2 linked regions of the Homo sapiens genome follow. The protein of the gene in region 1 interacts with the protein of each later gene in a pairwise test. Each region holds a gene or a part of one and is shown on either strand. Other genes may lie near its edges.

Region 1 (3,652 bases):
CCGGTCAGCTGGCCCATGTCCATCAGCCCCACAGGCCACGTCTGGCCCCCGCGGTGGCTTTCAGCCCCAGGACCCTCTCTGTCCCAGTTTCCCCTCGTCCCCTTGCACCCGGAGCTGTAACCAGGATGGCTGCTCCGGGTGCTGCCCATGCATGGAGGGTAAAGGCTGAGGGTGCAGGGAGGAGGCGAGGGGGCAGCCGCCAGGGGATTCCAGCTGTCCTCCCTGAGTCGGGCCGAGCTGCCGGCCTAGGGGCTGCCCAGCTGGTTCCGGTTCTGCACAGGGGTCCCAGGGCAAGCCCTCTGCGGTCTGCAGGGGAACGGATCCAGCACCCTCCGGCGCTCACCAGCAGCAGCAGACTGGGGATGAGGAAGGAGATGAGGTCCCACAGCAGAGCAGAGAGCCAGAAACTGGCCACGTGGACTCCACTCACAAACTGCACATGCTTGGCCTGCACGGCCCTCTCGCTGACCGCCAGGATGGAGAACGTGCTGGCCAAGAATGCCATGGCGAAGAGCAGGTTGAGGGCAATGTCGAATCCCTTCCGGCCCCTGCGGGGGACAGAGAAGGTCAGGGACGGAGCACAGCACGTCTGGGTGGCAGGAGAGGTCGGGTTCTCGGTTATGACCGCCCAAGGCATGCAGGGCAGCAGCCCAACCACTAAAGGGGCTTATGGGAGAGCACAAGCACCATGGTTCCATACCGGGAACATCTGCCCCCACCGGAGAACGGTTCCTCTGGAATTCCTATGCTGACCATGTGACAATGGCAGCGTCACTCTCCCTCATCACCCCGCTCCCAGCCCTCAGCCCCACGGCTGCCGGCGACCTTGCCCAGGTGTGGAGGTCCCGAGCCCCACCTCCTCCTGGAGTGTGGCAAAGGGAAAGCCTCTCCTGGCCTCTGTGTGTCATTCTAGGATCCTGAGTTGATGGCAAGGAGAGCAGATCGAGGGCTGTTGCTTTTCTGCTCTTGGGGCAGGGATGGAGCCAGAAGCTGGGACGCAGCCATCGCCAGGCCTAGGCCTAGCCTGGAATGTGGGTGGAGACGACACTGCCCTGAGGAGGAGTGGCTATTCTGAAATTAACAGAATTTTTGGCCTCCTCTGGGTGGTTCCAGGAGCTCTGGGGGCTCTGTGGCCGGCATAGGGGGTAGCCCTGCCCACACAATGGCATGGCAGGCTCCCGACGTGCGGCCATCTGAGGAACAGGGACGGCAGTTCTTGCCAAGTCCTGCTCTGCTCACCCTCCATCACCTCAGCTCATGTGCCCAGCAGGTCACACTGCTGGAGAGAGCAGTGTGGAGCGAGGACAGTGGCTGACAGGAGCCAGGTAGATTTAGGAGGAGAAGGCAGGGCTGCCTGCCGAGCCTTCATGGGTCCCCGTGAGGACCGCAGTGCATGGGATGGCCCACAGCTGATCTGCTGTCACAGGGAGTTGGGGCTGTGGATGGTGGAGGAGGATGTGGCAGGGGTTTCCCACCAGACCCAGGGGCTTTGGGAGGGCAGACACAATGCTCTATCTATGGGCCCGTGGCAGTGCCCAGGGCAGTCAGTCCTGGGGGCTCTGGCCAGGGCAGACAGGGACGGGCAGTGCACATACTCGTTAAACTGGTCCTTGGCAGCCTGCAGGGCGCTCCGGGGCTGGGGGAAGTTGGAGACCACAATGGAGGCGTGAGGCCCGCACAGCAGCTTGAACAGAAGGTTGTCCACGACGGCCAGGGCAGTGGCTGGAGAGTGGTACGCCTGGTTGTTGAACAAGGCGTTGACGACCGTGCGCTCTCCCACATCTCTGAAGGACGCTGCCACAAGGCACCGCTCATTAAAGCCGCCCCCCTCCACAGAAGCCCTGAAGATCAAGAACTCCTCCAGGTCACCTGGGGAGCAATGGCAGAGTCAGGGGACACAGGAAGAGGTGACACCTGGGCACCCCCTGCCACCTGAGCATGGCTAATCAGGGACCCAATAGAGTGGTGCCAGCATCCTCTGAGCTGCCCGCCCCATCACCCTTCTCCTAAGGAGAGTATAATTTCTGGCAAGGTTTTGTCATCATTCAGTATGTGGAACTTTGAATGCCAGTCAGGAACCGGGAAAGGAGCTGCAAAATAAGAAAACCTTCCAGTAGGTTCCATTAACCAGAGCACGGTCCCTGTTCTGAGCCTGGGGCAGTATCCAACTATGACTACCAAGACTCTTTCTTTTTTTTTTTGAGACAGTCTTGCTCTGTCACCCAGGCTGGAGTGCAATGGTGCGATCTTGGCTCACTGCAGCCTCCACCGCCCAGGTTCAAGCCATTCTCCTGCCTCAGCCTCCAGAGTAGCTGGGATTACAGGTACCCATCACCACACCTAGCTAATTTTTGTGTTTAGTAGAGACAGAGTTTTGCCATGTTGACCAGGCTGGTCTCGAACTCCTGACCTCAAGTGATCCACCTGCCTCGGCCTCCCAAAGTAGTGGGATGACAGGTGTGAGCTACTGTGCCTGGCCAAGAACTGTGAGTTTTAAGATGTTGAAAGAAAACACCCTGTCACACGAAGGCACACTGTGGCCAGCATCATCACAAAGCAAAGGTAACTTGAAGTCACTATGCTTCTGCATTTTGCCCATGAATGATCCTGAAAGACACAGCTTCAGTAAAAAGACGCCTGACAAAGCCTGGCCCCAGGATGCCAGTGTCTCTGGCACCTCCAGGGCACTTCCCCTGACTCAGTGCCGTGATCTGCCACCCAGGGGACATCCGCAATGTTTCCAGGCATGTTTGATGGTCATGATGGGGTGGGGCAAGGTCAGGGATGCTGCTGAACCTCCCTCAGTACATTCGGAACAGCCAAGAACCATCCTCCCCAGATGTCGACCCTGCTGCAGTCAGGAAGGCGAACTCTGGCTGCAGGACTGGCCCCCGATGCCCCCGTCCCGCCCCCGGGATGCCCCTTACCGAGCACCTCGCGGGGCTCCTGTCCCTCAGCCTGCAGTGCGTCTTTCAGATGCTCTGACAGCTGCTGACCCAGCTGGGAGGTCCCGGGAACTGAGAAGGGCACGACGGTTCTGCCGTACTCGCCCAAGGTCAGCCTCAGCATGGGGTCGTCGAAGAGCTCCGAGGAGTAGTTGATGGCCAGGAGGGCCAGGGTGACGCAGGTCAGAGGCACCAGGACCTGTGCCGCCACCATTTTCCACTCGCGCCAGCTGTATGCGGCCTTCTTCAGGAACATGGCCCAGAATTGCTGGCAGTGCAGGGCGAGCTGCGGCAGAGGGGACGCAGGTGACACCGGCACCGCTTGGGGCCCAGCGCCTGACCCCCACCCACCTGCGGCAGGTGCTGTTCTGTGTGACGCCAGCCTGGGGGCCTGCAGCTGAGGTTGCACCGGAGACTCCCAGAGCGTTGAAACGGCCGTGGGAGGAGCTCAGTGCACCACATGGCAGGGTCACCTGTGCAGACTCTGCAGGTCTCCATGGGGCCCTGCACGTTGGCACTATTTTATTTTTTTGAGACAGGGTCACTCTGTCACTGGGGGTGGAGTGCAGTGGTGTGATCTCAGCTCACTGCAACCTCCACCTCCTGGGTTCCTACCTCAGCCTCCCAAGTAGCTGGGATTACAGGCGCACACCACCACACCCAACTAATTTTTGTATTTTTAGTAGAGATAGGGTTTTGTCATGTTG
Region 2 (3,652 bases), on another chromosome or scaffold:
ACTCCTCAGGTTTTTGTACTAATTCAAAAGAAAGCAAAAACAAACAAAAAAATACCCAAACCAACAAAAAACCCAGGCATGCAATGCATACAGGTTATTTTCCTGTACCGTATATAAAATAAACAGCAGTTAAAATTCAACGTTAGTAAAAAACATACTTTTATGACAAATTCAATTGAAAGTTAAACAGAGTTAACTGTTCTCAGCCCATCCTCCCTCACCCCCGGAAAGTACAGCTTAAAGTTTTAAGCTGAATCAGATGCATGCACTTTTGCTACAGCAGGTAGAAAGACAAACACTCTTATTTCATACTGATGATTTGGCTTGTTTCTATGTAGGAGTGTTTTCATGGTTGAGTTAGTTGGCTAGTTTCTGTTAAACAATAGTAATAAGCACTAACATTTATTGAGTGTTTTCTTTATGCCAGGAACTGTTCTAAACACTTCACATGTATTTAATCATCATCCATATAAACTCTATTAAAGAAATCCTATAAAACAGGTACTATTATCCCCACTTTACAGAGGACAGAGAAGCAGAGGGATAAGTAATCTGTTCAAGATTACAAAGTAAGTGGCAGAGACATGATTTAAACCCAGGAGGACTGATTCTAGAATTCACACTCTTAACCTTTATTATTCCGCTTTCTCAAATGTCAATGAGAAATCTGACCAGCCAAAACTGTCATATTTGGCATACAGAACCAACATTTATACCTTAAATAACCCCATGTAACTGTTCAGAGGATCACAGAATTTTTTCCCCCCTAGGGACAAGTTAGAACTCAGTATTCTTTTCAGTTAAAGTTATATTTCATATTAAGTGGAAAAGAATACTTGTGCGTCAACCTATACTTGTACAAATCCTTCAGATGACTGCAAGATCTCTTTTCTGTGGAAGGTATTAGACCTAGGCCCATACCTATGAAGTTGTTGAACCTTGTCTGGGAGACAAATAAAAATTTATATAACTGAATGACAACTCCTACCATCCCTCATGCATGGCAGAATTTAAAGCAGTCTTCATTTTAAACAATAAAATATTTGTGCTACTGATATTCTTTAGATAATTAAACAATTGTCTATAAGACAAGACCCATCTAGGACTTGTTTTGTTGCTTTAATATTCAGTCTGTAATTATTTCAGGCATTGACAGAAATGCTATTATTCTTTCTTAATTTTAATGAAAGAGTCTAATTTAGAGCCCCAGAATAACAGTAATTTAGTTGAAGAACCTAGTAACTTGTTTCCCTCAGACTGACCCTTAGATACACATTTCTTTCTTTCCATTTAAGTATGTAACTGTTTCACTTCATTATTTCAAATTTTCAATGTCTTAAGTCTTTGTGGAAGTATATTGGACAGAATACATTATAACAAATAATGTAATTAGAAATTCTTAAAACCAAAACTCCTAAAATAAACGTTTTGAAATAAAGTATTTCACCATACCAACTTAACCTTTAATTTAGTTATTCTAAACAGAAATAAACTTTTCTGACTTTGAGCTAAATTAATACTAACTAAAAAATGATTTTAGAATGAAAGTCTCTAGACTAGGAAAAGCCCCTTTATAAAACAAGTGTGTCTAGAACTGTTTTTAATTTCTATAAATTCTTAGATTACCCAAATATATTAGGCATTTAAAAAAGCCTCTTTTTCTTTTTTGTGTTGTATATAAGGTTTCTATTAATTTAATGCAGTTATCTTTTTCTTTTATATTAGTTTCATTAAAACTATCCACCAGTGTTTCACGAAACTTGAAATGAGAAAGGCTTGGAATTGTAAAGATTCATCTCTCTTATAAATTTCAGTCTCATTCTTTCTTAAAGAAAATTCTGTATCACATCTCAATATTTCTGTTAACAATAAAGCACTAACTGTAATAAGAAAATTCTAGTGAATTTTAAGTGGGAATGAGTTTATAAATTCTGTTTAAAGTGAGGCTAACAGGGCTTCATAGGGTTACTTAAATCAGCACTAAAAAACTTTCCTTCTTAGCCCACAATTAGGAGTATGTGGATCAGATGGTCAAATTCCAAAGACACGTACTTTTTATATGAATTTTCTTATGGCTTCCTGCTTATGGCAACTAGATTTATGACTAGAATTTTCCAAACCTTAATCTTCAGAAGTATAATCCATAACTAGAATAGCTAAATAGACAGGTTTAAATAGTTGGCAAACTATTTTAAAAGATGTTACAGAGAGAGTAAGGACTTCAAGGAAGGAAATCTAAGATATAACACAATAATTACCTGCCTTTTAAATCCTTAACTGCAATCAATATCTCTGATTATAGCTCTAGACGAGTATTTTCCTACCACCCTACTTACAGTCCTAAATCTAGAACTTCAGCTCAAGATGTACCCTCATTTTTAGTAGTTTCCACTGCAAACTCTAAAATGATTCTTTTCACTATACTTAGACTGTTAGTTCGCTTTGAAGCTGCCTGTGTCCAAGGTCCTTTTCCACTAAATGACAAAAAATCTGAATGCTATGGCTAAGAGTGAGAAAATCCAATTGATTAGATTTTCTCCAAACACCAGTTTCTCTGACTTAATTTATTCTGAGAGGCCTCCCATTAGTTCCTTTCCATGAGACATTCCAAGTGCCTATAACCAACCCTACAACAGGAAACTTAGGTGCATCTTTTAAGACTCAGACACAAACCTTACCAGAAAGTCTTCCAAAGCACTGCTTCTCAAATGTTAATTTGCATACGAATCACCTGGAAACCTTATTTAACTGCAGAGTCTGATACAGTAGGTCTGAGATGAGACCCAAGAGCCTGCATATCTAAGTACCCAGGTGATGCCGATCCTCACTCTCCATCTTAAGAGCAAACTCTGAGTGGCAGTTCTAAATAACACTTTCAGATAACATTTACATTTCAATAAATAAATGCCTCCCCTCCTTACCTCTATATTCAGACTTAATTATACCTGAATTTACTCATCTGCAAGATCAATGGTAATCTCTAAGGTTCCTTCCAGCTCAATAAATCTAAAATTTACCACCTCTATCCCTTCCTACCCCCAATTCAACAAGCAGGCAAAGTTTATTTACAGTAATACACTGAAAAGTATGAATGACCCTTTCCACTTGATGCTTTAATCCCTTTTTAAGAAGCTGCTGAACATAGAACTAAGTCCCAATCATTTATTCTTTCTGAGTAAAAGTTTGTGCTGATTTTGTTATTTTGTTCCTAGGAAGAAATATTTTAATATTCTTATTCAGAATGCCACATACCAACTCTGGAAACAGAAGGCACCAAAAAGTAGATGTGTCAGCCTTGCTACCTTCTGGATACTTTGTCAAGTGCCCAGATATTTTTCACTGAAATCCTACCTGACTTTAAAAAAATCTCCTACTTGATGCTTGAAAATAACAGCCAAATCTATCTAAAAACTCTGCCCCTAAATTATGCTTTTTTTTTTTTTGGTCTGAGATTTTAATCTCTCTCCACCCCCAGGCTCCTTAAATTTTAAACAGTTAACAATAGAAGAGTCTCTTGTTGTTCTGTAATCCTGAGATGATTATTCTGGTTTTCCTTCAATTATGACAATCACTTTATACCTGTCAAAGTCAGATATACCTGCAATAGCCAGAAGAAAAGTAGATTACATTTTATCAGTGGACATATAACAAT

What was found. The genes of interacting proteins can lie anywhere in the genome.
Region 2: the proteins of ABCA3 (region 1) and HTR2B interact in a two-hybrid assay, tested with the Homo sapiens proteins (one large-scale study listed by BioGRID and IntAct).

What each region holds. Positions count from the first base shown.
Region 1 is NC_000016.10:2,285,099-2,288,750, forward strand, and holds part of ABCA3 (phospholipid-transporting ATPase ABCA3), read right to left. Parts: intron 3,232-3,652; coding exon 2,928-3,231; intron 1,870-2,927; coding exon 1,596-1,869; intron 549-1,595; coding exon 344-548; intron 1-343. UniProt on the Homo sapiens protein: Catalyzes the ATP-dependent transport of phospholipids such as phosphatidylcholine and phosphoglycerol from the cytoplasm into the lumen side of lamellar bodies, in turn participates in the lamellar bodies biogenesis and homeostasis of pulmonary surfactant.
Region 2 is NC_000002.12:231,114,982-231,118,633, reverse strand, and holds part of HTR2B (5-hydroxytryptamine receptor 2B), read left to right. Parts: intron 1-3,652. UniProt on the Homo sapiens protein: G-protein coupled receptor for 5-hydroxytryptamine (serotonin). Also functions as a receptor for various ergot alkaloid derivatives and psychoactive substances.